4 separate regions of the Homo sapiens genome follow, and regions 2, 3 and 4 are each linked to region 1. The links come from fine-mapping of genetic effects on gene expression. A gene starts in region 1. Each other region holds a variant in brackets. All regions are shown on one strand. Distances are from middle to middle.

What was found.
Region 2: its variant is fine-mapped to the expression of PRDM4 in whole blood (INTERVAL, PIP 0.93).
Region 3: its variant is fine-mapped to the expression of PRDM4 in whole blood (TOPMed, PIP above 0.99).
Region 4: its variant is fine-mapped to the expression of PRDM4 in left ventricle (GTEx, PIP above 0.99). The same link has a PIP of 0.9 or more in stomach and visceral fat.

Annotation. Positions count from the first base shown.
Region 1 is chr12:107,757,777-107,765,986 of GRCh38, reverse strand. It overlaps PRDM4 (PR/SET domain 4), which reads left to right and starts at 4,850. Exons shown (of 12, transcript NM_012406.4): 1 at 4,850-5,030; 2 at 5,216-5,482. The coding sequence starts at 5,472. PRDM4-AS1 (PRDM4 antisense RNA 1) reads right to left here. Exons shown (of 5, transcript NR_120474.1): 4 at 7,595-7,712; 5 at 6,019-6,215. RefSeq lists silencers at 4,560-5,139, 5,190-5,299.
Region 2 is chr12:107,723,849-107,732,058 of GRCh38, reverse strand. No RefSeq gene overlaps it. Among named protein-coding and RNA genes, the nearest start is that of PRDM4-AS1, 8.6 kb to the left of the region's middle. The variant T/C (reference allele first, on the strand shown) is at 5,132.
Region 3 is chr12:107,535,667-107,543,666 of GRCh38, reverse strand. All of the region lies in intron 2 of ABTB3 (ankyrin repeat and BTB domain containing 3), which reads right to left. Among named protein-coding and RNA genes, the nearest start is that of PWP1, 150 kb to the left of the region's middle. RefSeq lists an enhancer at 5,163-5,727. The variant C/T (reference allele first, on the strand shown) is at 3,918.
Region 4 is chr12:107,570,849-107,578,848 of GRCh38, reverse strand. All of the region lies in intron 3 of ABTB3 (ankyrin repeat and BTB domain containing 3), which reads right to left. Among named protein-coding and RNA genes, the nearest start is that of PWP1, 110 kb to the left of the region's middle. The variant G/A (reference allele first, on the strand shown) is at 4,875.

The DNA of each region.
Region 1 (8,210 bases):
TTTCTCAAATCTGCCAGGCAGTGTCCTGCCTCAGGGCCTTTGCTCTTGACCTTCTTTCTGATTGAGATATTCTTCCTCTAGATGTTTGCATGGATCACTGTCTCCTCTCCTTTGGTTCAAATGTCACCTTTTGAGTGATGACTTCTCTGTCTACCCTATTAAAATTGCAGGCCCATCCCCAGGCATTTTCTGTCCATTTTTCCAGCCATTCTTTTTTTTAATGTTATTTATTGCTATCTGGAATATTGTGTATTTTAATTATTTATTTCTTTATTATCTATCTTCTTCCATTATAATGTAAGCTCCAGAGGAACTGGTATTTTTTGCCTGTTTTGTTTACTATATACTCCCAGTTCCTAGAGCAATGCCTGGCACAGAGTAGACACTCAACAAACATTTGTAGAATAAACTCTATGCCTCTCTGCAAATATTAAATAAAGGAGGTCAGTCCTTACATTATACATTATAATTGTATCAAACTTATGGGCAGGAATCCCAAGAATGCCAAAGAGCAGGTTTACCCACATAAAAGGTCTTTATTTCCAGATCCTCCTTACCATAAGGAATAGGAAGCAAGATTTGAAAACTTAATTAGGGTCAGTTAAAAGTAAGATACCCTGATCAGCTAAATCTGGGGCCAAGTTTACCCATTACTGTTCTCGTCTTTAGTGCTAGGAAATAATGTTTAAAGGTAATTTGCTCTCTGTGTCTATCCCTGATGTCCAGGAAAAATCTTAGTGGTTGTTATCTGGTTGTCTTCACTGATATTACCTCTAAGCTCTACCCTTGACTATACTCTCCATCATTATTTCACAGTCATACTAATACAGTCCTGTGCCATACAATGATGTTTTGGTCAACGACAGACTGGATATACAAGAGTGGTCCCATAAGATTATAATGAAGCTGCCCTATACAGGCATACCATTTTTTAATCTTTTATCTGTATTTTTACTGTACTTTTTCTATGTTTAGATATGTTTAGATACACAAATACCACGATGTTACAGTTGTCTGGAGTATTCAGTACAGTAACATGCTGTGCAGGTTTGTAGCCTAGGAGCTATAGGCCATACCATCTAGCCTAGGGGTGTAGTAGGTTAGACCATCTAGGTATATGTAAGGGCACTCTATGATGTTTGCACAACCACAGAATCACCTAAGGTTGCATTCCTCAGAACATATCCTCATTGTTCTGCCACACCGACGCTCTTCATTTCTACCTGTGTGATTGGCCAGTTTCTCCCATTTTTGTTGTTGTTGTTGTTTGAGGAAGTGTCTTGCCCTGTCGCCCAGGCCAGAGTGCAGTGGCTGTGGCCTGATCACAGCTCACTGCAGTATCAACCTCCCAGGCTCAAAGTATCCTTCTACCTCAGCCTCCCAAGTAGCTGGGACCACAGGCATGTACCATCATACCGGGCTGATTTTTGTAAAGACAAGGTTTCATCATGTTGCTCAGGCTGATCTTGAACTCCTGGACTCAAGAAATCCACCAGACTTGGCTTCCCAAAGTGCTAGGATTACCGGTGTGAGCCACTGTGTCTGGCCTTTCCATTGTCTTTATTGTCTTAACAGCACCATGGAGTCTCCTTAAAGGGGTAAGTCACCCTAAATCAGCAGTTAAGGCAATCTTTGAGCAAACATTTGCTGTACATCTCCAAGTAAATAGATATATGAGTCAATATGTGTGGCTTCAAATTATGCCAGTTTGACTTTCCCTCAGGCATCAGAAATTCATTGAATATCTAATATATGCCAGGTATAGTGCTATGTTGTATAGCATTAAATAAGATAGACATGAATCTTCTCCCCAAAATTTAAAATGTATTTGGCAAAATAGAAAATTAAACAATTAATTACAATAAAGATAGGTACTATGAGAGAGCATACAGTGGGCCTAGTCTGGGGAGTAGAGTCAGAACACTTCAATTTTTGTTAATCTTGACATAATTTTTTAATTGAATTTTTGAGGTATTTTTACATACAATAAAATTCACCAATGTCAAGTTTACTATTTGATTAATTTGGACAGATGTATACAATTGTGTAACCTCTACCACAATCAAGACCATTTTCATCACTCCTAAAAGTTCTCTTATGCCCCCACTGTAGGCAATCTCATCCCCCAACCCATTCCCAACTTCTGACAATCACTTCTCTGCTTTCTATTACTACAGTTTTGCCTTTTCTAGAATTTCTCATACCTGGACTCATAATATGTAGTCTATTGTGTCTGGTTCCTTTCACTTAGCATAATACGTCTTTGAGATCCATCCATGTATCAACAGCTTGTTCCTTTTTATTTCTGAGTATTCCACTGTATAGATACTGTACACTATCATTATTCATTTACCAGTTGATGGACATTTGGGTCATTTCCTGTTCTGGCCTATGACAGATAACGCAGCTATGGACATTGGCGTACAAGTCTTTGTACATATGTTTTTATTTTTCTTTGGTAAATACCTAAGGAGTGTGGAGAATTGGATGGTATAAGAGGTATAAGAAATTGCTGGCCAGGCATGGTTGCTCATGCCTGTAATCCCAGCACTTTGGGAGGCTAAGGCAGGTGGATCACTTGAGGTCAGGAGTTCGCAACCGGCTTGGCCAACATGGTGAAACCCCATCTCTACTAAAAATACAAAAGTTCGCCAGGCATGCTGGTGAGCACCTGTAATCCCAGCTACTGGGGAAGCTGAGGCAGGAGAATCACTTGAACCCAGCAGGCAGAGGCTGCAGTGAGCTGAGACCACAGCACAGCACTCCAGCCTGGGTGACAGTGAAACTCTGTCTAAAAAAAAAAAGAGAGAAAGAAAAAAGAAAGAAATTCTAAAATGGCTGTGGCATTTTTTTTGCATTCCCACCAACAAAATGTGAGGGTGCCAGTTGCTCCATATCTGTGCCAACACTTGTTATAGTTGGTCTTTTTAATTGAAGCCATTCTAGTAAGTGTGTAATATCACTTCATTGTGCTTTGATTTGCATTTCTTTGATACCTAATGATGCTGCACATCTTTTTGTGTGCTTAATCGCCATCCATATAGCTTCTTTGGTGAAATGGCTGTTGAAATTTTTGCCTAAGTTTTTAAATTTAATTGTCTTCTTATTATTGTGTTTAAAGGGTTCTTTATATAGTCAAGATACAAATCCTTTGTCAGATATTTGTTTTGAAAATATTTTCTCCCAGTCTCTCACTTGACTCATTTTGTTGACAGTATCTTTTCAAGATCAACCATTTTAATTTTGATGAAGTTCGATTTGTCATTTTTTTTTTTGAGATAGGGTCTCTCTCTGTCACCTGAGCTGGAGTGCAGTGGCACAATCTTAGCTCATTGCAACCTCATACTCCTGGGCACAAGCTATCCTCCTGTCTCAGCCTCCCAAGTAGCTGGGGCTACACGTGCATACCACCATGCCCAGCTAATTTTTTTTATTTTTTGTAGAGACAGGGTCTCACTTTGTTGCCCAGGATGGTCTCAAACTCCTGGGCTCAAGCGATCCTCCTACCTCAGCTTCCCAAAGTGCTGAGGAGAGAGCCACTGCACTTGCTCCAATTTTTTAATAGTTTGTGATTTTTTTGTCCTATCAAGGTCACAAAGATTTTTGCCTTTATTTTCCTCTGTAAGTATTATGGTTTTAGCTCTTACATTTATGTGACCTGATTTTTATGTTCACCTCTCAACTTAATAAAATTGTTCCAAAAGAACAGACATCCAAACCCAAACCTAGTGAAAGCATTCGGCCGGTAATAAGATACATCATCATTCTCTAGGCTCCAGATTTGAAGTGGCATTTCAGGGAATACTGTCTCTCAGTTGAGATGATGACCTTCTTGATTTAGATTTCTATTTGTTGTCAACAGAGAGCAAAACCAATGTGACCTGCCTGCCAATGTTCAGTGAAGTTTCCTCATCTGGAATGTGCTTTCCCCCCATGAGAAGTAAACGAAGGGAAACATTATGGGGGTTGACACCCCTCCCAGCTCTCGTCCAAAAGGTTGCATGTGCCTCTACCCTTTCACATTAGACTGAATTTTCAAAATTCATCAGTTCCCACTAGACTGCAGGCAGGTGAAGGTCAGGGCTTGTGCCTTGCTCTGTATCCCTAGGTTTGAGATGTAATTCAACAGACGCTTTGTGAATGACAGGAAGAATTCCTGGGTCTGCTGTTCTGCTGGTGTAAGGGAGCCACCAGGCAGTGTGGTGTAATTTCAACGTCTACTGCTCAGGAGCTTGGGACCACCTTCCTTTAAAGCCATCTCGGTACTCCTAGCGTTAGGCACAGTGCCTGGCGCGCAGTAGAGAACTGAGGGCAGAGAAAAGGGGAAGGAAATTTTGTTTAAAATCCCAAACCCCAGCATTTACGACGGGAAGCAGGGAAACTGGGCAGCCTTCAGGTGTAGCAGACGGCCGAAAATATTCAGGATAGAATCCCAATTCCTCCTGGGCAGCAGAGGCAACCCTCGGGGCCAAATCCCATACTTCGAATTTTGGGGGCTTTGTGTGGACCCATGCTTCTCTAGTAGGGGAATGTCATGAAGACGAAATCCTGAGTCTGCGGGATTTAGGGGATTCAAAACTCAATCCCTGCAGGAACAGCAGCCCTGGTCGCCTAGCAACCATGGGCCGATCGCTCGGCGCTCGATTCTACCCGGCCGGATGGAGACGCGGAACTCCCGGCCGAGCCTCTCGCGGCCAGTGCCTCTGCCGTGCGCACGCGCGGAGGGGCCTGGGCTGGGAGAAGGGCGACGCGGTGCGCGGGCGCCGCTTGCGGGCCGCGGCGGGGAGGGCGCACGCACGAGGGGCGGAGCGGCGGGCGCTGAGAGTGGCTGAGGATCCGGAAACGCGCCGCAGAGGGTGCGGCCCAGAGGAGGCCGCGGGCCGGGAAGGGCCGGGCGGGACGGGAAACGTTAGGGCAGCGGCCCCCGGGGTGAGGGGGCCGAGCGGACGGGCAGGGCCCCGAGGCGAACTCTGCCCGGATGAGGAACAAAGCAGTGGGGCAGGCGCGTGCGCCCCCAGCGCAGCTGGCAGGTGGGCTGCGCGCGGGCCCGGCCGGAGCGGGGCGGGGCGCGGCGGCCCGGCCTGCGGGCCGCGGGCGGGCTAATCCACAGCCCTTGGGTGGCGGTGTCGGCAGCGCCTGGGGCTTTCGGGTAGCTGGGATGGGGGCTGCGACCTTGTTGTGGTTTTGGTGACCGCTCTTGTCCCCACTCCCCCAGGTTGGGCAGCCCCCTTCCCGAAGCTTCTGGACGGAAGGCCCCAGGTGTTCCCCGAGATGCCCCAACCCGTGGCGGGGTGCACGGCCACCGGCCCTCGGGAGAAGTTGGGCGGCCCCGGGCGACCCCGGGGACGAGTGGCCGCGTCGGTGCAGCGGTTGTGAGCAAGATGTGGTAGCACGTGACCCTGGAACGCAAACCCTGATGCCTGTTCCCCACCACCCGAGCGCTCCTTTCTCTGATATTTGGCCCCAAGCCGATGCATCACAGGTGAGTAGGGAGGTGGGCTTCAGCACTGGTGACATCGTTGGAAACTCTGGCGAGTGAGTGTCCAGGGTCAGTGCCGTTGTTTTTGGTGCCATTGAGAAGGTTACAGGTGTGATTTGCAAAGGAAACAAATCCAGAAACTAGTGTTGGGTGGAATGTAATCTCATGCATCCTAATTTACTCCACATGTGGAAAGTTGTTCCCAGTAGCCACACGTTTATTGTTGGCTTGTTGACACCTTTTCCTGTGTCTTTCAGTTATTTGAGCGTTTAATATATTTTTCCGGATTCCAACGTGTATTGTTATCTTATTATGCTTCACCTTGAGTTTTGCTGGTATGGCAGGGACGATAGTGAGGGAATTAAGTTCTTAATTCTGCAAGCTTCATGCTGATGTTTAAGTACAGAAGCAGGCCACAGAAATTGTTGCATTTGGCTGTTTTTTCAAGGCCCTTTCAAAGGCCGTATGTTTAGAATAAGGAAGATAAGGCACAAATTCATTGAAATTATTGAAGCCCCACTGCATTTTTCAAAGTGGCTGCATTTCAGTTAGTTTATTATATTTTATGCGAAGAAAAAGGTGTAAAATCAGCAACTGGCAGATGGTTGCATAGGTCAGTTAGAAACACACACATAAACTGTAGAACTGTGTAGGAAATTATTTTACCCTAAATGAGTAGGGAAGATAGAGCTTAGTATCTTGATTCTTGCCTTCTTCCGGGATTGCTTCTTAGAATCTCATAGGAGAAAGAAAATGAGAATAGAACTGCATTTTAGAATGAGAAAGTCTTATGAGGATCATATTGTACATTCCCTTCATCTGCCTTCTCTCTGTGGGATACTCATTACCTTTGGTTTATGGCTGCTGAGGTCATCACGTTTTAGTGACTCACAACAAAGCAGAAATCTGCTGAGCCTCTCGCATTAAACTCTGGTTTGAACTGGTTTGAGAAGGCCTAGGAGTCAACCTAGAAACACCATGCTGATTTTTATCTTGAAATTAAATAAATATTCAGGAATTTTCAGAATGAGAGTTGAAGGTGCAGACTTGTAGTTGTACTTTTAAAAAAATATTGTAACCAATTTGTTAAGTAGGCTGTTACAGCTGTAGTGATTGTAGTGTTTTAATTATGGTTGTAGCTATAAAGAGTTAGGGAAAAGTCTGTTTTAAACCAACTCAAGCCCAGCAACTTTCAAAATTAAGGTAGATATGTTTTCTTTAGGCTACAGGGATTTTTTGCTTTTTTTGTTTTTAAGACACAGTCTCACTCTGTCACCCCAGCTGGCGTGTAGAGGTACAGGCAGAGCTCACTGTAGCCCCGACCTCCCCACTTCAGCCTCCCCTGTAGTTGGAACCACAAGCACGAACCACCATGCCTGGCTAAGTTAAAAAAAATGTTTAGTAGAGACAGGGGTCTCACTGTGTTGCCTAGGGACGTCTCCAAGTCCTGGGCTCAAGCGATCCTTCTGCCTTGGCCTCCCAAAGTGTGGGATTACAGGTGTAAATCACCACACCTGGGCTGCTTTATTTTATAGCATAATAAAAACTGTTATTAGCATGCTGTTCTTCATAAGGTGTACCTCATTTGCCAGGTGCTTCTAGCTGTCTTTCTGGTAAGGGTGATGAGTTTGCATAGCTCCATCCGATAAAATAAGAAAATTCAGAATGTCTGTTCTATACAAGGTACTAGGTTGGCCTTTTACATTTTATTGATGTCTTAGAGCTTAGTTTTATGGGATCCATGGCCAGGGATAAGGGTGAAACCTAATAATGCAAGAAACAGGTCTATGTGGAACTTTAAATATACGCCACAATATAAGTAGATAGGCCCTAATGTATTGCAACTGTGTAAAAGGCAATATAGTTCTTTTATTGTAATTGTCTTTTTCTTACTATAGTTAAGAGCTTTGGTTTCTTAAATTAGTTCTGAATTTAAATCCCAGCTCTCCTTACTGGTTATGTGATTCTGGGTTAAGTTTCCTAGCATCATTGAATCTTAAGTTTCCTCATCTTTAAAGTGGGATTAAGAATAATACCTACCTCCAGCCTGGGCAACATAGGGAGACCCCATCTCTGCAAAATAAAAACAAATTAGCCAGGCATGGTGGCACTTGCCTGTGGTCCCAGCTGCTTGGGGGCTGAGGTGGGAAGATCTCATGAGCCTAGGAGGTAGAGGCAGCAGTCAGCTGTGATCACGCCACTGCACTCCAGCTTGCAGCTACTGAGCAAGACCCTGTCTCAAAAACAAAAAAAAAAAAAAAAAAAAAAAGAAGATTAAGAGAGATAGTTACATATAAATCACTTAGCCCAATACATAGCACATGGTAAGGGAGCCATAAATTTTAGCTATTATTATTTTCAGGTTGATTGATAAAATGGCATTGCCATTTTTCAGAATTAAAAACCTATTTAGATTTGATTTCACTGCTAAGGAATATGTAACCTCATTTGATTCCTCTTCTCTGCTTCACCCCCTCCCATACGCAGAGAATAAAGCCCAGTGTAAGGACTGGAGGTCATTAGAGAGCCCCTTTTGGGTAACCTGTTGGCTAGCCTAGTGGTTCTGTAATGTTTATAGTATGGCAGTCTCTAAATTATGATATAAGAACTAATACTTTTTGATAACAACCTTCAGTGCTGTTTTATTCAAATCAGTATTACTCTTATTCGAAAGACATTTGTAATGGCAGTGCAAGATGGTTTGCATAGAAAAGGTGATTCCTAGGTTCTT
Region 2 (8,210 bases), 34 kb after region 1:
TGTGGGCTTTGCTGTGTGATGAAGGTTTGTAACCTTGGCCAAGTTATGTAAGCTCTCTATGCCTCTTCCCTTAACTGTAAATGGAGAGTATTAAGAGCGCCGCTTCATTATACTGTTTAGATGTTAAGTTCATACGTGTCAGTGGCTCCCACAGTGCTCAACATAAACAGTAGCTGATATTCTTTAGTTTCCCATTAGTCTACATTTTTCATTTTAACATAGGTTTCTACACTAAAAAAAATTGACATATAGAATATCCAAGAAGCTCTAGATTTTAGTAATATAAATAAAACTGGAATAATTTGAGTTTTCAAGGCCAAAGCCTATAAACTAGTTCAGAGTATTCTTGCAGCTCACTGTATGCTTGGCATTTCCTTCTCAAAAAGGTCAGTGGCTCATAATCCTGGCATTTTTGTTGTGCTGAGATTCTCAGAGGGCAAAGAGGTAACAGGAAGTAGAGTCTTCGTCAGCCTTTTCACGCTTGACCTGTGTCCCCGCTTTCTAGTAAACACTCCTTTACCTGTGTCTCAAGAAGCATAAACATGCCAGAGGCTGTCAGCACCTCATCAAGTATGTAAACTTGATGATCTGATCACCAAACTTGGAGGCACACACTAAGGAATGACATATCTCCATATACACAAGTGATTATGGTCTGTTACAGGTGAACACACCGCCCCCTGCCAACACCACCAGATTCATATGGTGAAGTCCTAACCTCCAGTAATCTCAAAATGTGATTGTAGTTGGAGATACGGTTTTTAAAGAAGGAATTAAGTTAAAATGAAGTCCTTAAGTTAGGACCTAACCCAATATGACTGGTGTTCTTAGAAAAAGAAAATTTGGACAAAGCCTTATACAGAGGGAAGATGATGTGAAAACAGGGAGAAGACATTTCCAAGCCCAAGGAAAGAGGCCTGGAACAGGTCCTTCCCTCACAGCCCTCTGAACAGTCCTGCCATTGCTTTGATCTCAGACTTCCAGCCTCCAGAACTGGGAAACAATACATTTCTGTTTAGTCTTCCCGGTCCATGGCAATTTGTTGTGGCAGCCCTGGCAAACTAAACAGTCTAACCAGATATACGTTCTTGATAATGATTGCTTAAAGGGGAGCAGCTTCCAGTATAGTGACTTCAGTTTAACCCCAGCTTTACAGATTAGCATGAGCAATATAAAGGCAGGCACCATTTCTAGTGGTGTATATTGCCGCCAGCAAATTTCCCTACTACTGAAAGGGGTGAAACCACTCCTTAACAGCTTTTTTGCTCCTTAGCTTTTCTTGCATATGCACACTGAGGATCATTAGGCACTCAGGCCTGTGTAGTCCTCAGACAAGGAGAGTGGTCTTTTCAAAAACCATTTATTAAGTGCTGGTACACTTTAAGGCATTGTAGGGGGAACAGAAAAATAACTAGGGCTCTGCTCCTGCCTTTGGATACAGGTGATCTGCCTGCCTCCGCTTTCCAAAGTGCTGGGATTACAGGCATGCGCCACCGTGCCTGGCCCAGGCTACAAGTCTTTAAAGGAAATCACATAAACTCTAAACTATTCCATTTAGACAATGCATATTTATATCCACAAGTTAGGGAGCACATGGAAAGCATGCTTTGTTCTTTGTGTTTTCTGCCCCCAGCACCTGCCTCCTCACCCTGCAGCACATCTTGTGCTGCTACATACTTGCTGAGGCTCAGGCTGGGCATGGGCTTTGGGGTTGGGCAAGCATCAAGATCAGTTTAGGGCCAGATTTGGGAAAGAAAAATCACCTAAGGTGAAAGTCACTTACTTTGGGAAATTTTACTTCTTGAATGATCTGTTAATTGGTTAATAGACACAACTTCTGGCCCCTCTTAGCTAGCACTGCCTAGGACCTTGTGACACATTTGCTTGCAAATATGCTTTCTAGTGGTAGTACATTTTAATTTATAGTTTTACTCCTCATAGGGCATTATAAAAGTAGGCTTTACCCTCAGTTGTCTAGATGTTGAAAATGAAGTTCAGAAAAATTACACTTTTCACACCTGTAATCCCAGCACTTTGGGAGGCAGGTGGATCACTTGAAGTCAGGAGTTCCAGACCAGCCTGGCCAACATGGTGAAACCCTGTCTCTACTAAAAATACAAAAATTAGCTGGGCATGGTGGTGGGAGCCTGTAAATTCCAGCTACTCAGGAGGCTGAGGCAGGAGAATCACTTGAACCCAGCAGGCGGAGGTTGCAATGAGCCAAGATTGTGACACTGCACTCCAGCCTGGGCAACAAAGCAAGGCTCTATCTCAAAAAAAACAAAAAAAAAAAACCAGTTTGTTGCATTTCATATTCACTGATTGGCTGCCTGGGAGCACTTTTTAAAAATGCCTGTATTTCTCTTCCAGGGCTCTCTTCCATGTTAATCTACGTGAAACATTATTTAGACGCTGCTGTTGTTCTGACACACCTCATTTCAGGATGCATCACACTGCTGCTTACACTTAGTTGCATATTTGCACTGGGGTTGTGGAATCTGTTTTTTATAAGCATAGAACACCTTTGTGGGTCATTGCTCTTAGTTGATTAGAGCCAACTACCACTCAGTTATGACAAGTGAATTATTCAAAAGCATGTGAGATGACATAATATTCTGTTAAGGGACTTATTCAAGATGCCTGACCCAGATGTGCTGTAGCAAAAAGAAAGGGAGCCAGGCTACGTTGCATCTAAAATTCCCACCGTGCCAGTGTGCAAATAGTATGTTTCATAGCAAGAGAAAAGCAGGATGGTCTATTCATCCAGCATTGTTTGTTTCTTTGGGAAAGGAACACGTTAGACTTTAAGGGCTGGAGAAGTGTGTATTTAAGGAAAAGCAATGGCTTGTGACCAGGAAATTTGATTTTAAGCTGAGAAGTAACCATTCGAAAGAAAGGAAGAGAACTCGAGTAACTTAAGTAAGTTTATTATAAGTTAAGTGCTTTAACTTCACAATAACAACCTTGTAGGGTAGGTTTTAATATCTTTGTTTTACCGAGGCCACAGAATGTCCCAGAAGTTAATGCAGTTACTGAAGTGTGAGATTGGAAAGTAAGGCCTCCTAGCTCTGCATTCGATGCTTTTTCTACTGTATTCTGTGGCATAGAGTTATTAGCATGATTACGGAAAAGTCATCTAGCTTGGGTGGCTCAGTACTCTCATTTTGGTGGTTGATAATAATCAAGTTTTTTAAATTGATTAGTAAGACTTGAGAAATGCCCTGAGACTATGTATGTATGGTTGCTTGCTATGAATGCTGGGAAAAGACATTCTGAATATATCAAGTGGTAAGGCATCCCAGTTAGCTAGATTTTTGTAACACAAAAAGCAAAATCCTATTACTTCATACTAAATCTAACAAGGGGTTGGGCACGGTGGCTCACACCTGTAATCCCAGCAATTTGGGAGGCCGAGGCGGGTGGATTTCTTGAGGCCAGGATTTCAAGATCGGCTTGGCCAACATGGTGAAACCCCATCTCTACTAAAAATACAAAAATTAGCCAGGTGTGGTGGCATATGCCTGTAATCCAGCTAGTCAGGAGGCTGAGGCAGGAGAATCGCTGAAGCCCAGGAAGTGGAGGCTCCAGTGAGCCAAGACCACTCCACTGCACTCCAGTCTGGGCAAGGCAACGAGACTGCGTTTGAAAAAGAAAAAAAAAAATCTAATGAGGGAGACTACTAAATAAGTAATTACAAAATTTTAAAAGGAGTAAGACAAATTACATTCTAACACAGCAGGGGTATCTTATGCAGGCTACAGAGATGAGGGGAGGCTTCTCAAAGGAAATGACACTTTTTTTTTAAATTATACTTTTAAGTTCTAGGGTACATGTGCACAACGTGCAGGTTTGTTACATATGTATACATGTGCCATGTTGGTGTGCTGCACCCATTAACTTGTCATTTACATTAGGTATATCTACTAATGCTATCCCTCCCCCCTCCCCCCACCCCATGACAGGCCCTGGTGTGTGATGTTCCCCTTCCTGTGTCCAAGTGTTCTCATTGTTCAGTTCCCATCTATGAGTGAGAACATGCAGTGTTTGGTTTTCTGTCCTTGTGATAGTTTGCTGAGAATGATGATTTGCATCTTCATCCATGTCCCTACAAAGGACAGGAACTCACCCTTTTTTATGGCTGCATAGTATTCCATGGTGTATATGTGCCACATTTTCTTAATCTAGTCTATCATTGATGGACATTTGGGTTGGTTCCAAGTCTTTGCTATTGTGAATAGTGCTGCAATAAACATACGTGTGCATGTGTCTTTATAGCAGCATGATTTATAATCCTTTGGGTATATACCCAGTAATGGGATGGCTGGGTCAAATGGTATTTTTAGTTCTAGATCCTTGAGGAATCACCACACTGTCTTCCACAATGGTTGAACTAGTTTACAGTCCCACCAACAGTGTAAAAGTGTTCCTATTTCTCCACATCCTGTCCAGCACCTGTTGTTTCCTGACGTTTTAATGATCACCATTCTCACTGGTGTGAGATGGTATCTCATTGTGGTTTTGATTTGCATTTCTCTGATGGCCAGTGATGATATTTTTTCATGTGTTTGTTGGCTGCATAAATGTCTTCTTTTTAGAAGTGTCTGTTCATATCCTTTGCCCACTTGTTGATGGGGTTGTTTGTTTTTTTCTTGTAAATTTGTTTGAGTTCATTGTAGAGTCTGGATATTAGCCCTTTGTCAGATGAGTAGATTGCAGAAACTTTTTCCCATTCTGTAGGTTGCCTGTTCACTCTGATGGTAGTTTCTTTTGCTGTGCAAAAGCTCTTTAGTTTAATTAGATCCCATTTGCCAATTTTGGCTTTTGTTGCCATTGCTTTTGGTGTTTTAGACATGAAGTCCTTGCCCATGCCTATGTCCTGAATGGTATTGCCTAGGTTTTATTCTAGGATTTTTGTGGTTTTATGTCTAACATTTAAGTCTTTAATCCATCTGGAATTAATTTTTGTATAAGCTGTAAGGAAGGGACCCAGTTTCAGCTTTCTACATATGGCTAGCTAGTTTTCCCAGCACCATTTATTAAATAGGGAATCCTTTCCCCATTTCTTGTTTTTGTCAGGTTTGTCAAAGATCAGATGGTTGTAGATGTGTGGTATTATTTCTGAGGGCTCTGT[T/C]CTGTTCCATTGGTCTATATCTCTGTTTTGGTGTCAGTACCATGCTGTTTTGGTTACTGTAGCCTTGTAGTATAGTTTGAAGTCAGGTAGCATGATGCCTCCACCTTTGTTCTTTTGGCTTAGGATTGACTTGGCAATGTGGGCTCTTTTTTGGTTCTATAGGAACTTTAAAGTAGTTGTTTCCAATTCTGTGAAGAAAGTCATTGGTAGCTTGATGGGGATGGCATTGAATCTATAAATTACCTTGGGCAGTAACGCCGTGTTCACGATATTGATTCTTCCTATCCTTGAGCATGGAATGTTCTTCCATTTGTTTGTGTCCTCTTTTATTTCGTTGAGCAGTGGTTTGTAGTTCTCCTTGAAGAGGTCCTTCACATCCCTTGTAAGTTGGATTCCTAGGTATTTTATTCTCTTTGAAGCAGCTGTGAATGGGAGTTCACTCATGATTTGGCTCTCTGTCTATTATTGGTGTATAAGAATGCTTGTGATTTTTGCACATTGATTTTGTATCCTGAGACTTTGCTGAAGTTGCTTATCAGCTTAAGGAGATTCTGGGCTGAGACAGTGGGGTTTTCTAGATATACAATCATGTCATCTGCAAACAGGGACAATTTGACTTCCTCTTTTCCTAATTGAATACCCTTTATTTCTTTCTCCTGCCTGATTGCCCTGGCCAGAACTTCCAACACTGTGTTGAATAGGAGTGGTGAGAGAGGGCATCCCTGTCTTGTGCCAGTTTTCAAAGGGAGTGCTTCCAGTTTTTGCCCATTCAGTATGATATTGTCTGTGGGTTTGTCATAAATAGCTCTTATTATTTTGAGATATGTCCCATCAATACCTAATTTACTGAGAGTTTTTAGCATGAAGGGCTATTGAATTTTGTCAAAGGCCTTTTCTGCATCTATTGAGATAATCATGTGGTTTTTGTCTTTGGTTCTGTTTATATGCTGGATTACGTTTATTGATTTGCGTATGTTGAACCAGCCTTGCATCCCAGGGATGAAGCCCACTTGATCATGGTGGATAAGCTTTTCGATGTGCTACTGGATTCGGTTTGCCAGTATTTTATTGAGGATTTTTGCATCGATGTTCTTCAGGGATATTGGTCTAAAATTCTCTTTTTTTGTTGTGTCTCTGCCAGGCTTTGGTATCAGGATGATGCTGGCCTCATAAAATGAGTTAGGGAGGATTCCCTCTTTTTCTATTGATTGGAATAGTTTCAGAAGAATGGTACCAGCTCCTCCTTGTACCTCTGGTAGAAATCGGCTGTGAATCCGTCTGGTCCTGGACTTTTTTTGGTTGGTAAGCTATTAATTATTGCCTCAATTTCAGAGCCTGTTACTGGTCTATTCAGAGATTCAACTTCTTCCTGGTTTAGTCTTGGGAGGGTGTATGTGTCGAGGAATTTATCCATTTCTTCTAGATTTTCTAGTTTATTTGCATAGACGTGTTTATAGTATTCTCTGATGGTAGTTTGTATTTCTGTGGGATCGGTGGTGATATCCCCTTTATCATTTTTTATTGCGTCTATTTGATTCTTCTCTCTTTTCTTCTTTATTAGTCTTGCTAGCGGTCTATCAATTTTGTTGATCTTTTCAAAAAACCAGCTCCTGGATTCATTGATTTTCTGAAGGGTTTTTTGTGTCTCTATCTCCTTCAGTTCTGCTCTGATCTTAGTTATTTCTTGCCTTCTGCTAGCTTTTGAATGTGTTTGCTCTTGCTTCTCTAGTTCTTTTAATTGTGATGTTAGGGTGTCAATTTTAGATCTTTCCTGCTTTCTGTTTTGGGCATTTAGTGCTATAAATTTCCCTCTACACACTGCTTTAAATGCTATAAATTTCCCTCTATACACTGCTTTAAATGTGTCCCAGAGATTCTGGTATGTTGTGTCTTTGTTCTCATTGGTTTCAAAGAACATCTTTATTTCTGCCTTCATTTCATTATGTACCCAGTAGTCATTCAGGAGCAGGTTGTTCAGTTTCCATGTAGTTGAGCGGTTTTGAGTGAGTTTCTTAATCCTGAGTTCTAGTTTGATTGCACTGTGGTCTGAGAGACAGTTTGTTATAATTTCTGTTCTTTTACATTTGCTGAAGAGTGCTTTACTTCCAACTATGTGGTCAATTTTAGAATAAGTGTGATGTGGTGCTGCGAAGAATGTATATTCTGTTGATTTGGGGTGGAGAGTTCTGCAGATGTCTGTTAGGTCCGCTTGGTGCAGAGCTGAGTTCAATTCCTGGCTATCCTTGTTAACTTTCTGTCTCATTGATCTGTCTAATGTTGACAGTGGGGTGTTAAAATCTCCCATTATTATTGTGTGGGAGTCTAAGTCTCTTTGTAGGTCTCTAAGGACTTGCTTTATGAATCTGGGTGCTCCTGTATTGGGTGCATATATATTTATGATAGTTAGCTCTTCTTGTTGAATTGATCCCTTTACCATTATGTAATGACCTTCTTTGTCTCTTTTGATCTTTGTTGGTTTAAAGTCTGTTTTATCAGGGACTAGGATTGCAACCCCTGTCTTTTTTTTGTTTTCCATTTGCTTGGTAGATCTTCCTCCATCCCTTTATTTTGAGCCTATCTGTGTCTCTGCACGTGAGATGGGTCTCCTGAATACAGCACACTGATGGGTCTTGACTCTATCCAATTTGCCGGTCTGTGTCTTTTAATTGGAGCATTTAGCCCATTTACATTTAAGGTTAATATTGTTATGTGTGAATTTGATCATGTCATTATGATGTTATCTGGTTATTTTGCTCGTTAGTTGATGCAGTTTCTTCCTAGCAGGGATGGTCTTTACAATTTGGCATGTTTTTGCAGTGGCTGGTACCAGTTCCTTTCCATGTTTCATGCTTCCTTCAGGAGCTCTTGTAGGGCAGGCCTGGTGGTGACAGAATCTCTCAGCATTGGCTTGTCTGTAAAGGATTTTATTTCTCCTTCACTTATGAAGCTTAGTTTGGCTGGTTATGAAATTCTGGGTTGAAAATTCTTTTCTTTAAGAATGTTGAATATTGGCCCCTACTCTCTTCTGGCTTATAGAGTTTCTGCCAAGAGTTCCGCTGTTAGTCTGAGGGGCTTCCCT
Region 3 (8,000 bases), 220 kb after region 1:
AAGGCTCAGGAAGCCCTTTGCGTCCCGTTCCTGCATACTGCCTCCCTCGCCCTGTGACACACCCTCTATGTTGTGGCCAACACTGCTTTAACTGTAGTCACAAGAATGGGCTATGCTCTCTATTGCCCCTGAGCCTTGTACATATGCTATTCCCTCTGTCCAGAACATTCTCTCCCTCTTCTTCTCCAGGCTAACTCCTACTGATCATCCAGGTATCTGCTTATAAATTAATTCCTCTAGGAAACCCCCTCTAGAACCACCCTGCCCTTACTTGGGTTATCACACTGTACTTTTCGTGTTTTTTTTCCTTTTTTTTTTTTTTTTTTTTGAGATGGAGTCTTGCTCTGTTGCCCAGGCTGGAGTGCAGTGGCATGATCTCCACTCACTGCAACTTCTGCCTTCCGGGTTCAATCGATTCTCCTGCCTCCTCAGCCTCTTGAGTAGCTGGGACTACAGGTGCCTGCCACCACAACCGGTTAATTTTCGTAATTTTAGTAGAGATGAGTTTTCACCATGTTGGCCAGGCTGCTCTTGGACTCCTAACCTCAGGTGATCTGCCTGCCTCTGCCTCCCAAAGTGCTGGGATTACAGGCATAAGCCACCACGCTCTGCCCTATAAAAGTAAATTTGATGACAACAAAACAGTGTACAGTTCACCCTTGAACAATGCAGGCTGGAACTACTTGGATCCACTTATACATGGATTTTCTTCCACCTCTGCCACCCATCATACAACAAGACCAACTCCTCCTTTTCCTTCTCCTCCTGGGCCTACTCAACATGAAGATGACAAGGATGATGACCTTTATGATGATCTGCTTCCACTTAATGAATAGTAAGTACATTTTCTCTTCCTTATGGTTTCCTTAATAATTTTTTCTTTTCTCAAGCTTACTTATGGTAAGAATATCATATATAAGAATATAACATAAAATACACGTTAATGGACTGTTTATGTTACCAGTAAGGCTTCTGGTCAACAGTGGGATATTAGTAGTAAGCTTTTGGGGAGTCAAAAGTTACACAGAGATTTTTGACTGCATAGGGGTTCAGTGCCCCTAAGTCCCAGATTGTTCAAGGATCAAATGTAATTAATTTCTAGCTGAATTCTGGCCCCGTTTTCCTTTTTATACGTAACAGGTGTTACAGAAGTGTTAGGGGCTGATATCAAATGGAGCCTTTCTTTTTAAAGTAATTAAGATTCAAATGAATGTAAAAGAATCACTCTATAATCAATATTATTTAATGCACTTGCCCTGTCCTACTTACGATCATCTCATGCACACCAGAATATGTTGCGTACTTTGGGAGACAGCCGCCTAAGATATCTGTGATGGTTAATTTTTTTTTTTTTTGAGACAGAGTTTCGCTCTGTTGCCTAGACTGGAGTGCAGTGGTGCGATCTCGGCTCACTGCAACCCCTGCCTCCCGGGTTCAAGCAATTCTCCTGCCTCAGCCTCCTGAGTAGCTGGGATTACAGGCATGCACCACCACTCCCAGCTAATTTTTTTGTATTTTTAGTAGAGATGGGGTTTCACCATGTTGGCCAGGCTGGCCTCGAACTCCAGACCGCAGGTGATCCGCCCGCCTTGGCCTCCCAAAGTACTGGGATTACAGGTGTGACCCACCGCGCCTGGCCAGTGATGGTTAATTTTATGTGTCAACTTGGCCAGGCTATGGTGCCCAGTTGTTTGATCAAACACTAGTCTAGATGTTGCTATAAAGAAGGTTTTTTTTTTTTCTTTCCAACTTTTATTTTAGGTTCGGGGGTACACATACAGGTTTGTAACATGAGTAAATTGCATGTCGCAGGAGTGTGGTGTACAGATTATTTTGTCACCAGGTAAACAGCATAGTACCCAACAGGTAGTTTTTCAGTCTTCATGCCCCCTCATCCCCTACCCTCAGGTAGGCCCTAGTGTCTATTGTTCCCTTATGAAGGTATTTTTTAGATGTGATTAACATTTAAATCAATAGACTTTGAGAAAAGCAGATTACCTCCCACAGTGTGGGTGAGCCTCATCAATTAATTGAAGGCTTTAAGAGAAAAGACTGAAGTTCTCCGAAGAGGAAAGCATTCCGTCTCCAGACTGCAACAACTTTTACTAGAATCTCCAGCCTGCTGGCCTGCACTGCAAAATTTTGGACTTGCCAGCTCCCACAATCACATGAGCCAATTCCTTAAAATAAATGACTTTCTCAGTCTATCTCGCTACAGAGAAAGAGAGAGAGAGAGAAATCCTGTTGGTTCTGTTTTTCTGGAGAATGCTGACTAATACGATATCTGACATGATGCTAGCCCCTGTTGGGGCTCCCCCATTCCCTCTCATTGTCCAGCTGAAACCAGTCCTTTAGATCTCACCCCTTCTCCACCATCCTGCTGTACCTTTCAACGTGACACATTTACCTAACATCCAAATTCGAGTAAGTGAGGCAAAGTGAGAGGCAGGAGTTTCTCCTCCGAAGGCTTAGGACTCATCTCCTGGCTTCCTGTTTCCTGTCTGAGGGAGGGGCCACTACTTCAAAAGATGACTGACAAGAGGACTGTTCACCAGCTTTAGGGGGGTTGATTATGGGAATGAGGTTCACAGAGCTCTTGATTGATTGATTGATTATAGATGCAGCCCTAAAGTCCTTCTCAAGACAAGATTCCAAGCAGCTACTATTTCTTTTTCTTTTTTAAGAGACACTCTCTCACCCAGGCTGGAGTGCAGCAGGGTGATCATAGCTCACTGCAGCCTGGGCTCAAGCGATCCTCCCACTTAAGCCTCCCAAGTAGCTGGAACTACAGTCACAAGCCACCATGCCCGGCTATTTATTAATTTTTATTTTTTTAATTTTTTGTAGTGGAGATGGAGTCTTGCTTTCATACCCAGCCTGGTCTCGAACTTCTGGCCTCAAGTGATCCTCCTGCCTCAGCCTCCCAAAGTACTGGGATTATATGAGTGAGCCACAGCACCCAGCCACAAGCAGCCCCTATTTCTAATAGGAGTTGTCGAAATAAAGGAAAGCTCTATGTTATCTAAGTCCTAAGGCTTCGTCAGGACAGCCTAACTAGACTACGATCCACTGAGCTCAGTGCCTGGCCAACAGATCAGGGCCTTGTGCAGATGGCAGCAAGGGGTATGATGGTTAATTTTAGGAGTCGACTTGACTGGATTAAAGGACACCTAGATAGCCGGTAATGCATTATTTCTGGGTGTGTCTGTGAGAGTATTTTCAGAAGAGACTGGCATTTGAATCAGTGGGCTGAGTGAGGAAGACCTGTCCTCACCCAGTGTGGGCAGGCACCATCCAAGTGGCCGAGGCCTGGATAGAACAAAAAGGCACAGGAAAGGTAAATTTTCTCTTTCTCTCTCTTCTGGAGCTGGAACACTCTTCTTCTCTTGCCCTTCCACCTCCTGCCATATGAGGATATGGCAACAAGCCACCATCTTGGAGGCAGAGAGAACCAGACCACCTGACCTTGACCTGGCTGGCATCTTGATCTTGAACTTCCCAGCCTCCAGAACTATAAGAAAATACATTTCTGTTCTTTATAAATCCTCCAGTCTCAGGAGTTTTGTTAGAGCAGCACAAATAGACTAACGCAGGGGGTTATATCCCTACATCTCTCTGCATCTTCACATACCCAGCCCTGAGCCTGCCTCTCCACTCTCCATTTCCCACAGCTGGAAAATTCATCCAAGAAATTTTTAAAAGCATCAAGGAAGGACATTCTCTTTTAGAGGCAGATCACAGGGAAGACATAAGGGCAGCTGCAGATGGAAAACGTGGGGAACTACTGCTGAAAGTTAAGCAGGGATCAGAGGAAAGAGTTCAAATCTCAGCTCCAGCCTGTGTAAACACAGGCGAGTCACTTAACCTCTCAGGTGAGGAATAATCTTCACCTCTCAGGTGGTTATGAGGGTTAAGTG[C/T]AAAATGTGTAAATGCCTGGCATACTTGGCATTGAATAAGCAGTTCTCCTGGGCTCATGGGCTGCCTGCTCTTCCTCCTTTCTGAGTGGTGAGACCAGGATGCTGGGTACATGGGACAGAGAGGGGTAGTCCTGCCAGCATTCTGAACGCTGAGCACCTGATTTGCTGCTTCATGCTGGGGTTGACTTTTTTAGGACTCTACACTGCAAAGCTGCTCATTCCTGGGGTCCCTTTGGGGTGCACTGAGATCCTTAGCTGCTACTGCTTCCTTTTTCTCTCCATTCTCATGTTTTAGAGATTGCACTCCCTGGGAGGAAGAAAAAAAAAGGAAGCTAAGCTGGGTGCCTGCCTCCGGGCATTCACATCACTTTAGCCTAGTAAGGGGAAGCTCCAACCACTGGTCAGAATAAGAGCTCCCAATCAGTGAAAGTTGGGAAGGGACCTAGAAGAAAACTCAAAGATAGAGGCCTGGGGTGGGATCGGGCACTGAGACAATGTTTTTAATTTTCCAGTGAGGACAGTGACCTGGAGTAGAGGAAGAAGAGACAGCAGAGGTAGAAGCCCCAATATGCTGAGCACCTACCATGTCTCCGGGCATTTAGACACGTTTTCTATTTGATTTATATAAGAGCCACACAAGGTGAGCATTATTATATCAATTTCAGAGATGGGAAAATTGAGGGAGGAGGCAACTGGCCCAGGTGTCACTCAGCAAGTGGCAGGCTGTGACTCCAACCTGGAGTTGGACACACAATGTGGGCTTGTGTTCTTTGTCACTATGACACAGTGCCTCCAAAAAGGCACAAATCTAGAACCCAGTTTTGAGTGTGGCCCTTAAAAAGTCTGACGAAGAGTCTGAGGCTCAAATCCCAAACATCTCCCAAAGTCTGTGCCGTCACAGACTCCAGAGTGGGGCCCACTTTGTGGGGTGGGGGCTCAGGAATTTGGTTGGCCTCTGCTGATGGAGCAGAGCTTCCAGCCTGGGGTTCTCAGAGTCTACCCCATTGGTGTCTGTCTGGAGGACAGCGGGGTGGCTGATGGTCAACCTGCATAAATGACCAAGGAGGCTGTAAGAAATAAATCACCAAGCAGGAAGAGCCTGGAGGGGTAGAAGAAGCAACTCAACAACAACGGAGGCCTGGAAGGAAGCTGGTGCTGAAATCAACAGAATCCTGGTCTCTCTGATCAGACTTCCTGCCTGGCCCCTGGCAGAGCTCAAAGAGCTGCTCCCTGAAAGCTATGAAAAGTTGGAGGAGCCCAGACAGCTGAGCTCTGGGATCACCAGAGGAGGCTAAGGTGGATGACAGCAAACCAACAGCTAGTGCTTCCTGTGTGCAGGATAATTCTTAGCACTTTAGACCTGTTACACCCATTTAAGTGCCACATGACCCAATGGGGCTGGTCCTGCTAGCATATGCATCTCACAAATGAGGAAAGTGAGGCACAGAGAACTAATAAGACTGAAATTACACTGCCACTGAGTCCAATAACTGGCCTGGAAGCTGCTGCCATCTGGCTCTCCCCCACACCACGCTGCCCTGTGAAGGCAGGGGTCTTCATGCCCTGGGGGCAGCACAGCCTCCGGAGATCCCAAGCTGCTTCTGCATCCCTAGGGTTTTGGCAGAACAGGTCAGCACCCCTTCCACTGGCATCTGTTGGTAGTGGCATTCTCGGTGGGCATAGAGTGGGGAAGAGCTGCATAGACCATGGAGGCAGGGTTGATGGCAGTAGCTTTGGAAAGGCCTGGAGACTTCCCAGTCGTGCCCTTGGCTGGGAGGTCAGAGTCTTCCAAGGCAGCCCCAGCCATAGGCTCATGCAGGCTCACAGGAGGCCAAGGCCGCAGGCTGTGGGCAGCCCTAAGCTGGGCCACAGCCTGGCAGGAAGTGGTGGCTACACATCAGATGCCACCTGGGGACTCTGAAAAACTGCGGGACGAACTTGCAGAGGCTGGAATTCCTGTGAATCTGCATTTGGAGGGCAGAGTCTGAGAAGCTCTGAGGTTGGCCAGATCTGAGGTAGACTTGGCCTCCACTGTCCCCAAAGAGAAGTAGTTTGAAGGGTGTGGGCTGCCCAGTAACTGAGCCATGTTGACACTCACTGTCCTCTGGGAGGAAGGCTGTGCTGCAGACAGCCTGGAGTGAGCAAGGGAGGGTGGAGGAAAAGCCAAGGGGGAAGGCTGCCATCAGGAAGACCTGAGAAGCAATTCTATTTCTTTTTTTTTCCTTTTCAGTTGACACATAAGAATTGCACATATTTATGGGGTACACAGTGATATTTTGATACATGTATATAATGTATGATGATCAAATCAGGGTAATTACCATATCCATCACCTCAAACATTTATCATGTCTTTGTGCTTGGAACATTCAAAATCCTCTCTTCTAGCTTTCTGAACTTATACATTATTGTTAACTATATTCACCCTACAGTGGAATAGAACATTAGAACTTGGTTCTTGATTTGGCTGTAAGTTTGTATCCATAACCAACCTCTTCCTATCCTCTAATCCCCGCTACTCTTCCAGGCTTCTAATGTCTATAATGTTAGTCTCTACTTCTATGGGCTCAATTTTTTTTTTTAAGATTCCATATACAAAGAAGATCATGTGGTATTTATCTTTCTGTGCCTGACTTATTTTATTTAATATATTGTTCTCCAGTTTCATCCATGTCGCCATAAATGACAGGATTTCATTTTTAATGGCTGAGTGGTATTCCATTGTATAAATATACACATTTTCTTTATCCATTCATCTGTTGATGAATTCATCATAGGTTGATCCACATCTTGGTTTTATAAATAGTGTTACAATAAACATGAGGGTGCAGACATGTCTTGGATATACTAATTTTCTTTCCTTTGGATAAATGCCCAGTAGTGGAATTGTTGGATCATATGGCAGTTCTATTTTTAGTTTTTGGAGGATCCTCCACACTGTTCTTCATAATGACTGTACTAATTTACATTCCCACTAATAGTGTGTGAGGATTCCCTTTGCTCTACGTCCTTGCCAGTATTTGTTATTTTTTCTTTTTGATAACAGCCACTCTAACTGGGGTGAGATATCTCAGTGTGGTTTTGATTTGCATTTCCTCGATGATTACTGATGTTAAGCACTTAAAAATATACTTGTTGGCTACTTGTATGTCTTCTTTTGAGAAATGTCTATTTAGATCTTTTGCACACTTTAAAATCAGATTTTTTTTTCTCTTTGAGGTTGAGTTCCTTGTCTATTACGGACATTAGTCCTTTGTCAGGTGAATAGTTTGCAACTATTTTCTCCCACTCCATAGGCTGTCTCTTCAATTTGTTAATTGTTTCCTTTGATGCACAGAAGCTTTTTCATTTGATATAGGCTCATTTATCTATTTTTGGTTTTGTTGCCTGTACTTTTGAAGTCTTACCTCTAAAATCTTTGCCTAGACCAATGTCCTGAAGCATTTCCCCTATGTTTTCTTCTAGGATTTTTACATTTCAGGCCTTGCATTTAAGTCTTTAATCCATTTTGAGTTGATTTTTGTATATGGTGAGAGATAGGGATCTGGTTTCATTCTTCTGGATATGGATATCCAGTTTCCCCAGCACCACTTATTGAAAAGAGTGTCCTTTCCCTAATATATGTTCTTGGTGCCTTTGTTGAAAATCAGTTGGCTGGAAATATGGATTTATTTCTGGGTTCTCTATTCTGTTCCATTGGTCTATGTGTCTGTTTTTATACCAATACCATGCTGTTTTGGTTATTATTGCTTAGTATACTTTGAAGTCAAGTAGTATGATGCCTCCTCTTTTTGCTTAGGATTGTTTTGGCTATTTAGGGTTTTTTGTATTTCCATATAAACCTTAAGGTGTTTTTTTCGATTTCTTTGAAGAATGTCATTGGTGTTTTGATAAGGATTGCACTGACTGTAGATTTCTTGGGTAGGATGGTAATTTTCCAATATTAATTATTCCAATCCATAAGCATGGAATGTCTTTCCATTTTCTGTGTTCAATTCTTTCATCAGTGTTTTGTAGTTTTCATTGTAGAGATCTTTCACTTCATTGGTTAAATTTATCCCTAGGCAATTTTTTTGTAGCTATT
Region 4 (8,000 bases), 190 kb after region 1:
GGACCTGTGGACCTATCTGTGGGGCAGAGTCCCAAGGATTTTCTGCCTGAATCAGCCTGCTTCTTAGGCTGTCTCCCTCATTCTCCCATTCTCTCCATCACCTAAACTGAATCAGGCACTCAATAAACACACGCTGACTTGAAATTGAATTGGATTCTACTGTCTCAGGTGAGCAGAACTTATTTTTGTCACAGTGTCTCCATTATTGTTGGAAACCAGCCCCAAATGCTCAGAGAACTCTCTGGGTTAAGTTTCAGAGGCGCCTCCCCTCATCATTCCTTTGCTCAGTGGCCCCAGAGCACAGTCCACAACCCTGAGTCCCTGGGGGGCTGCATCTCCATCACAGAACTGCCCTTGGGCTGCTGCCTTTCATGTTAGATGCCAAGCGAGGCCCAGGGCACACGGCCAATGCCTGGTGAATGCCAAAGAATAGCAAAAAAAAAAAAAAAAAAAAAAAAAAAAAAAGAAGAAGAAAGAAAAAGGCTCTGCTGCCTTCAAAAATAACACCTTTACCAAGACAGCTGGCAAGCTCCAGAATAAGACACCTTGAACCTCAGGATTCCAGCCTCTCCTGGAATTTTCTATGTACCTATTCTCTCCTTTCAACATTGCCTTCTTCTTGTCACTCTGACCTTAATAGTATATAAGCTCATGAATTCTTTGCCAGTAACTCATTTAAAAATCTTCTTATCTTGTCTACTCAGAGGGGAAAAAATAGCATTATTTGTATGTTTTCTTTGGAGGAATTGGAGATGGGAAAGAATTCGAGGGCTCTGAGTCAAGGAGAGGGTGGAGAATGCTGAAGAAAAAATCTTGCATTCTCTTTATACTTTTTTTTTTTAAGAGAACAATGTTCCACTGGTTGTCTCCTTTATTCTGAAGTTGTTTGAAGTGACTAAAACCCAAAAGAAGCTTGAGGAGCTCATGGTTTAGTGAAGTGGTTCTTAGACTTTGTTGAACATCAGAAGCACATGAAGAACTTGTTAAAATGGCAACAGCCATGATTTTACATCCAGAGTTTGGCTCCCATAAGTCTTGGGGTAGGGCCTGGGCATCTGCATTTTAAATAAGCTCCCCTGGAAATTCTGCAGCAAGCCAGGTTTGTTAATCCCCAACCACGTGGCCTGAGATGAGCAGAGGAGGGAGATGGTCCACTCAAACAGGACAGTGGCCATCTACATCTTCACTGTGGTGTTAGGAGAGGTATATAGGGTGCGACTAGAGGCTCTGGAAGGAAAGAGAAAGCCTTGATGGGCTTCCTGCAGAGTCAAGCCAGCATGTCAGCTCAGGAAGGCTGTTAAGCCCAGATTCAAGTAGGAGATGGAGAACATACACGGACATGGCCTTTCTCTGAAATGGTGAAGAGAGAGCTGGTGATGAGGCTGACCACCCAGGATGGAAAAGGAGTTTGGCTGGGGAGTCTGGGTACTAGAAAGAATGTTACAGGATGTGAGAAAGGCCTGGTTTGGGATTTTGCAGAACTGAATCCCAGCCCTGGATCTGCCCGTAACTCACTGGAGGGCTCCTCTGGCCCATCAACGTTTTGGCCTTCAGTGTCTTCACCTGTAAAGTGGGGTGGGTTTGCATCAGATGATCTATTTCAGGGCTCAGCAAACCTTTTCTGTAAAAGGCTAACTAGTAAGTATGTTAGGCTTTGTGGGCCATAAGGTCAGTCTCTGTTGCTACTACTCAACTCTGACATTGCAGTGAGAACAGCCACAGATGATACACAAATGAAGGAGCTTGGCTGGGTTCCAATACAACTTTACTTACAAATGCAGATGGTAGGTCAGAGGTGGCTACCATTAGCCTGTTCAGTTCTTCCCAATGCTAATATTCTTCGATTCTATTGGAAAAGCCAGTTGCTGGGGCCTTAGGAAGTACCTAGTGTGTAGACTAGGGAAGATGGAGAGAAGACCATGAAGGTCCTAGTGATAGGGACAGAAAGTTTTGGGGAGATCAGAAGATAGGACCCTCCCACAAAGAGGTCATGGTTGGATGCTTGAGCCACAGGCATATCCAGAGGTAGTAGATTAAAAGATATCAAGAGTTGCTGAGGGTGAGGTTGGAGACGTGGTAAAGAGTGCGGAGTAGGTATGGAACCTAGGAGTGAGGACATCCATGGGCTCAGGAATTCATCTCACATGCTAAACTGCCTTGTTCCAGGGTTCAGAGAAACTACCTGTTGTTATGGGCTGAACCGTGTTCCCCCAAATTCCTATGTTGCAGCCCTAACCCCCAGTACTCAGCATATGCCTGTATTTGGAGAGAGAGCCTTTGAAGAGGTAATGAAGTTAAAATGAGGCCATTAGAGTGGCCCTAATCCAGTCTGACTGATGTCCTTAGAAGAAGAGGAGATCAGGACACGAGAGACACCAGGGTTGTGTGTGCACAGTGGGGCAAGAGGGTGGCCATGCACGCCAAGAAGAGCGGCCTTGGAGGAAGACAACCCTGCCAGCAGCTTGATCTGGGGCTTCCAGCCTCCAGAATGGGGAGAAAATCAATTTCTGTTGTTTAAGCCACCTAGTCCATGGCATTTTGTTATGGCAGCCCCAGCAAACTAATATACTTGAGGTTTGACATTTTGAAGAAAACTTGGCCTGGAGTGGGAGGAGCCAAGGTAGTGTTCTAGGTCAGTACCCCAAACCAAGAAATCCTATTTTGAGGTTTCAGTCTTCAGTAGAGGGGCTTCAACTGGAAGCTCAAACTCTTTAGAAAGCTGATGGTGTTTGGTTTGTTTCCTTCAACCTAGTGCAGTAGGGGATGGGGTCAAAGCCATTTGAAGATTGTACAGTGCTGTGGTTAGGAGCACGGGCTTTGGAGAGAGACTGATTGGAACTGGATTCCAGCTCTACCTTCTAGCAGTGGGAGCTTGAACAAGATATTTCAAGTGTCATGCCTCAGTTCTCTCATTGGGAAAATAGGGATAATAATAGCACCCACCTCAGAGGGTATGGTTGGCTGAAGAATGCCTCCCACCCCTAACCGAAGATGTCCACATCCTAATCCCTAGAACCTGTGAAAGCTGCCTTAACTGGCTAAATGGACCTTGCACGTGTGATTAAGTTCAGGAGCCTCCAGGTGGGCCCTAAATGCAATCACAAGGGTCTTTATCAAAGGAAGGCAAGAAGGTCAAAGGAAAAAGGAAAAGAAGCAGTAGAAGAGGTTGGAGTAATGAGAGGAAGGGGCCATGAGCTAGGTAATGCAGGCAGTCTCTAGAAGCTGGAAAAGACAAGGAAATAGATTCTTTCCCAGAGCCTCTAGGAAGAACCAACCCTGCCTATACCTTGACTTTAGCCCAGTGAGGCTGATTTTAGACTTCTGGCTGCCAGAACTGTTAAGAGAAGAATTTTGTGTTGTTTTAAGCGTCCGTGTGTGGTAATTTTTTACAGCAGTCACAGGGAACAAATAAACAGGGTTATTGGAAGAATTGAACGGGATGATGTACTTAGCGTGGCGCCTGGTACCGAGAAAGTGCTCAATAAATGGGGGCTGTTATTATCATCATCACCAACATTGTTTTTAGCATCACTCATCTTCTCCCTGCCAGGTGCAGGAAAAGGCCTTGCTACACAGAGCGACATAGAGGGATGTTCCTGCCTTTTCTTTACAAATAGATGCAAACCTCTGCAGATGCTATAGCCTTCCCTTTGTAAACTGTGTGGCCCTGACTTTTCATCTTTGTTATTTGTTGAGTGTTTCTTAGACTGGAAAGGAATTTCGATATTTGTGGTTTAGGAAGCTCATAATTCCAGAGACACAGAGAGTGAAGGAAAAGCAGCTAAATTGATAGTAGACCATATTCGGTGCTGGTTTCTATAGCAATGCTCATTGTAACATCACTGCATCTGTGGGCACCAAAGCCGGGAAGATGGTAGAGGTAAGAGGTGGCCACAGCTGGTTACTATAGTGACAGCCCTACTGTGCAAGGCATAGTCCAACTGCCCACGAGGGTGGTTTCTGCAGATGGCCTGGAGTGGGAGGAGCCAAGGTAGTGTTCTAGGTCAGTGCTTCTTAAATGTTTCTGTGCCTTTGAATCACCTGGGATCTTGTTAAAATGCAGATCCTGATTCAGAGAGTCTGGGGCACAGCCTGAGATTCTGCATTTCTTTCTTTCTCTTTCTTCCTTTCTTTTTCTTTTTTATAGATGGAGTCCCGCTCTGTTGCGCAGTGATCTTGGTTCACTGCAACCTCTGCCTCCTGGGTTCAAGCAATTCTCCTGCCTCAGCCTCCCAAGTAGCTGAGATCACAGGCATGTGCCACCACACCCAGCTAATTTTGTATTTTTAGTAGAGACAGGGTTTCACTATGTTGGCCAGGCTGGTCTCGAACTCCTGACCTCAGGTCATCCACCTGCCTTGGCCTCCCAAAGAGCTGGGATTAGAGGAATGAGCCACCGCACCCAGCTGAGATTCTGCATTTCTAATGCGCTCCCAGGTGATAATGCAGCTGCTGGTCTATGGAACATATTTTGAGTAACCATGACCTACAGAGAATCATGACTCAAGTCAGAAACCAGGGAAGGTGAATTTTGTTATTGTGTTTAAGTTGGGGAGGAAAAGGGGTCACAGGTCCAGGAGACAATGGAATAGAAGGAGTTGAGCTGGTGCATCAGATTGGCCGAGCCTGGTTCATGAGCCTTTGCCAAGCTGCAAGTGAGGCTGGGAAAAGCTAGTGCCTGGAGGCTTCAGTTTTTATCATAAAGGTGGGTTCTGTCTCCACCTGGATTCTCATTTAGTCTTCCAACAACCCTGTGAAGCCCTTCAGTCTTGGGGAGTTTGTTCTGAACCAAGCATTGTCTGCAGACTATTTTGTATTCATAGCAGTATTTAGTATCATCCTGGGAATATAAACACTCGAGAAAGACACCTTGT[G/A]ATGTTAATTTTATGTATCTACTTGGCTAGGTCACATTATCCAGATATTTAGTCAAACAGTAGTCTGGACATTACTCTGAATTTTTAGATGAGATTAACCTTTAAATCAGTAGGCTTTGAGTAAAGCAGATTATCATCCATAACATGGGTGGGCCTCATCCGAACAGTTGGAGGCGTCAAGAGAAAAAAACTGATTTTTCCCAGAAGAGAGAATTCTGCCAGTCGAATACATTTGAACTTGAGCTGCAACCTCAACTCTTCTCTGGGTCTCCAGCCTGCTGACCTATCCTGCAGATTTTGAACTTGCCAGTATCCACAATCTTGTAAGCCAATTCCTTAAATCTGTGTTGTGTATATAAAGCATATTAGCCAGGGCTCTCCAGAGAAACAAAACCAGTAATATATGTGTGTGTTGATCAATCTGTCTATCTGTCTATCTGTCCACTCACCATCTGTTCCATCTATCCATCCATCCATCCATCCATCCATCCATCCATCCATCCATCCATCGATTCATCCACCCAGCCACCCATCCATTCATTCATCCACCCACACATCCATCCATCCATCCGTCCAATCTCCCCTTCTTTCCGCCAACATGTACACACATCCTATGGGTTCTGTTCCTCTGGAGAAACCTGACTGACACACATCTGCAATGGGATTTAGTTGCATGCAGGGACATAGCCTTCTCTTTCTACTGCTGATTCTTCCTCCCTCACCATCATGCACAATTGGCTGAGGTAGGGAGGAAGCTCAGGTGCTAGATCCCATGGAGGATGACTTCCCCACACCCTGATTATGCACAATACACCACTTGGGAACCATGAAACAGAGGCCTCATGGATAGAGTCAGTGCTTTTAGGGAAAAGTAAGCCATTTTGTACCAAAGTACAAGTCTTTTGCAGCGTGAAGGTCAGTGCCACTTATGAGTGATTACATAAATTGTCTGAAATGGGGCAAATGGCAAAGGGCACAGGTGAGGAGGTGATTTCTACAGATAGTGCCCAGACGCACGTGACTGACCAAGGAAGCATCTCTGGCTTTCCAGCTGCACATCCTAAGAAAGGTGACTTAGAGGGCTGAGGGCTGCAAGCAGTACTGAGGACAGGCAGGTCTAGGCAGAGCGAGCAAAAATAATACATGAATAACAACAACCTTGACCCTGCCTGCAAACAGCTACACATCCTCTAGGCTTCATTTCCCTTCCCATCCCAGAGAAGGATTCCTTTTCTCTTCCCTGCTTCTGCTTCCCTGGGGACTTGGCTCAATCATTTATCTCCCTGCAGTCCCATGACTTCAACCACCATCTCCTCTCTGTATGTTTCCCATCGGTATTTAGGCATTCAACATGCTCCAGGCTCTCACAGTTTAAATAGGATGTGAGCAAAACTGTAAGAATTCATGGTCCTCCTGGAGCATCAGCCTGGATGCTCCATCTAGTTCCCCATCTTCAGGGAGTCTCCAGATCACCTAGGGAGCTGGTGAAAATGGATATTCCCGGGTCTGTGCCCGTTTGCTTGGTGTGTTAGTTTCCTATGGCTGCTGTAGCAAAAGACCACAAACTTGGTGGCTTGAAACAACAATCTGGTGGCCATATTTTGGACTTCTGGCCTCTCACAGCTCTGGAGGCCAGAAGTCCAAAATCAAGGTGTTTGCAGGCCCTCCCCTCTCTCATGGAGATCTAGGAGAGAGTCCATTCCTTGCCCCTCTCAGCTTTTGGTGGTAGCTAGCATTCCTTGGCTTGTGGCTAGTCACTCCAGTCTTTATCTCTGTCTTGCATTACTTTCTCCTTCTTTGTGTCAAGCATCCTTCTCTCTTATAAGGATACTTGTGATGAGATGTAGGGCCCACTCAGATAATCTAGGAGAATCTCATGTCAACATTAATGGAATCACATAGGTAAAGACTGTTTTTCTTTATAAAGTAGCATTTTCAAGTTCTGCGCATTAGGACTTGATCATTTTGGAGCTATTTGTGATTTAGCCTGCTGCACTTGGCATCTGCATCTTATCTCTTATTCTCTGTAGGTATTTTCTGATGCCGACCAAAGGCTGAGACCATCAGGTCTAGAGAGTGCCAGCTCTGAACTGCAGGATGCTCAGCAAGCTCAGTGTCCATCACGTACCATGTGGGGACCAGCCAGCCAGCCTGTGCCTCTCTCCGCTAGCTGCTGCCTATGCCACAGACCAGCCTGGTTAAGGAAGGCAGAGGCCTCTGTGGCAGGAACCTGATCTCAAATGGGGTTGGATGATGATGGGGCCCAGGATATAAATGGCCCTGGGAGGGGAGCCGCAGCCTCAGAAGTGGAGAAGCCACAGACTCTGTGTGAGGCTGCCGCGAAACACGCCTTGCAGGCTTGGGCACAAAAAATAAACATCCAGGAAGCAGCAGAGGCTGTACAGCTTCATATCCTGGGAGAGGTGGCTCTAGAAGCCTAAAAGGGCAGGGACGGGCCTGGTCAGGGCCAAGAGGCAAAAGCCAGGGTGGGCTCCTAGGGGCCATGTGGGCCTGCTTCTGCCTCCAAAAACAAAATCATAAAAAGTAGCAAAAGGCAGCACACAGCCTTACAAAGGAAACCCACTACACCTTCACATCTGGTGCTGATGTGGTAGTAAGGGTATGTACTCTGAAGATGTTTGTGCCCAGGCTTCATCATTTGCTAGCTGTGGGACCTTGGGCAAACTACTCCCCATCTCTGTGCCTCAGTTTCCTCATATGTGAAACAGGGGAATTGTAAGGCCACACCTCAGCATTGTTGTGAAGATTAAGGGAGAGAATGTCAGTAAGGTGCTTAGCACATAGTAAATGCTCAACAAACTTAGCTACTATTGAGGGTTTGTTATATGTGAAGCAAGCTCTGAGCATTTTTCTGATGTTAGCTCATTTGATAATGACAAGAGCCCTGAAGTAAGTGCTATTATTAGATAATAAAATAGAGGTACAGAGAGGTTATCTAACTTACCTAAGGACACACAGTTATAAACAGCAGTGCCAGGATATACTGCAGGCAGCTGGGCTCAGAGCCAGGCCTATTAGCCATTCACTATATCATTTCCAGGCAGAGGCTAACAGCATGTGTACAGAGGCCCAGAGGAAGCCTGGGGCCTGGTGCTTTGGACCTCA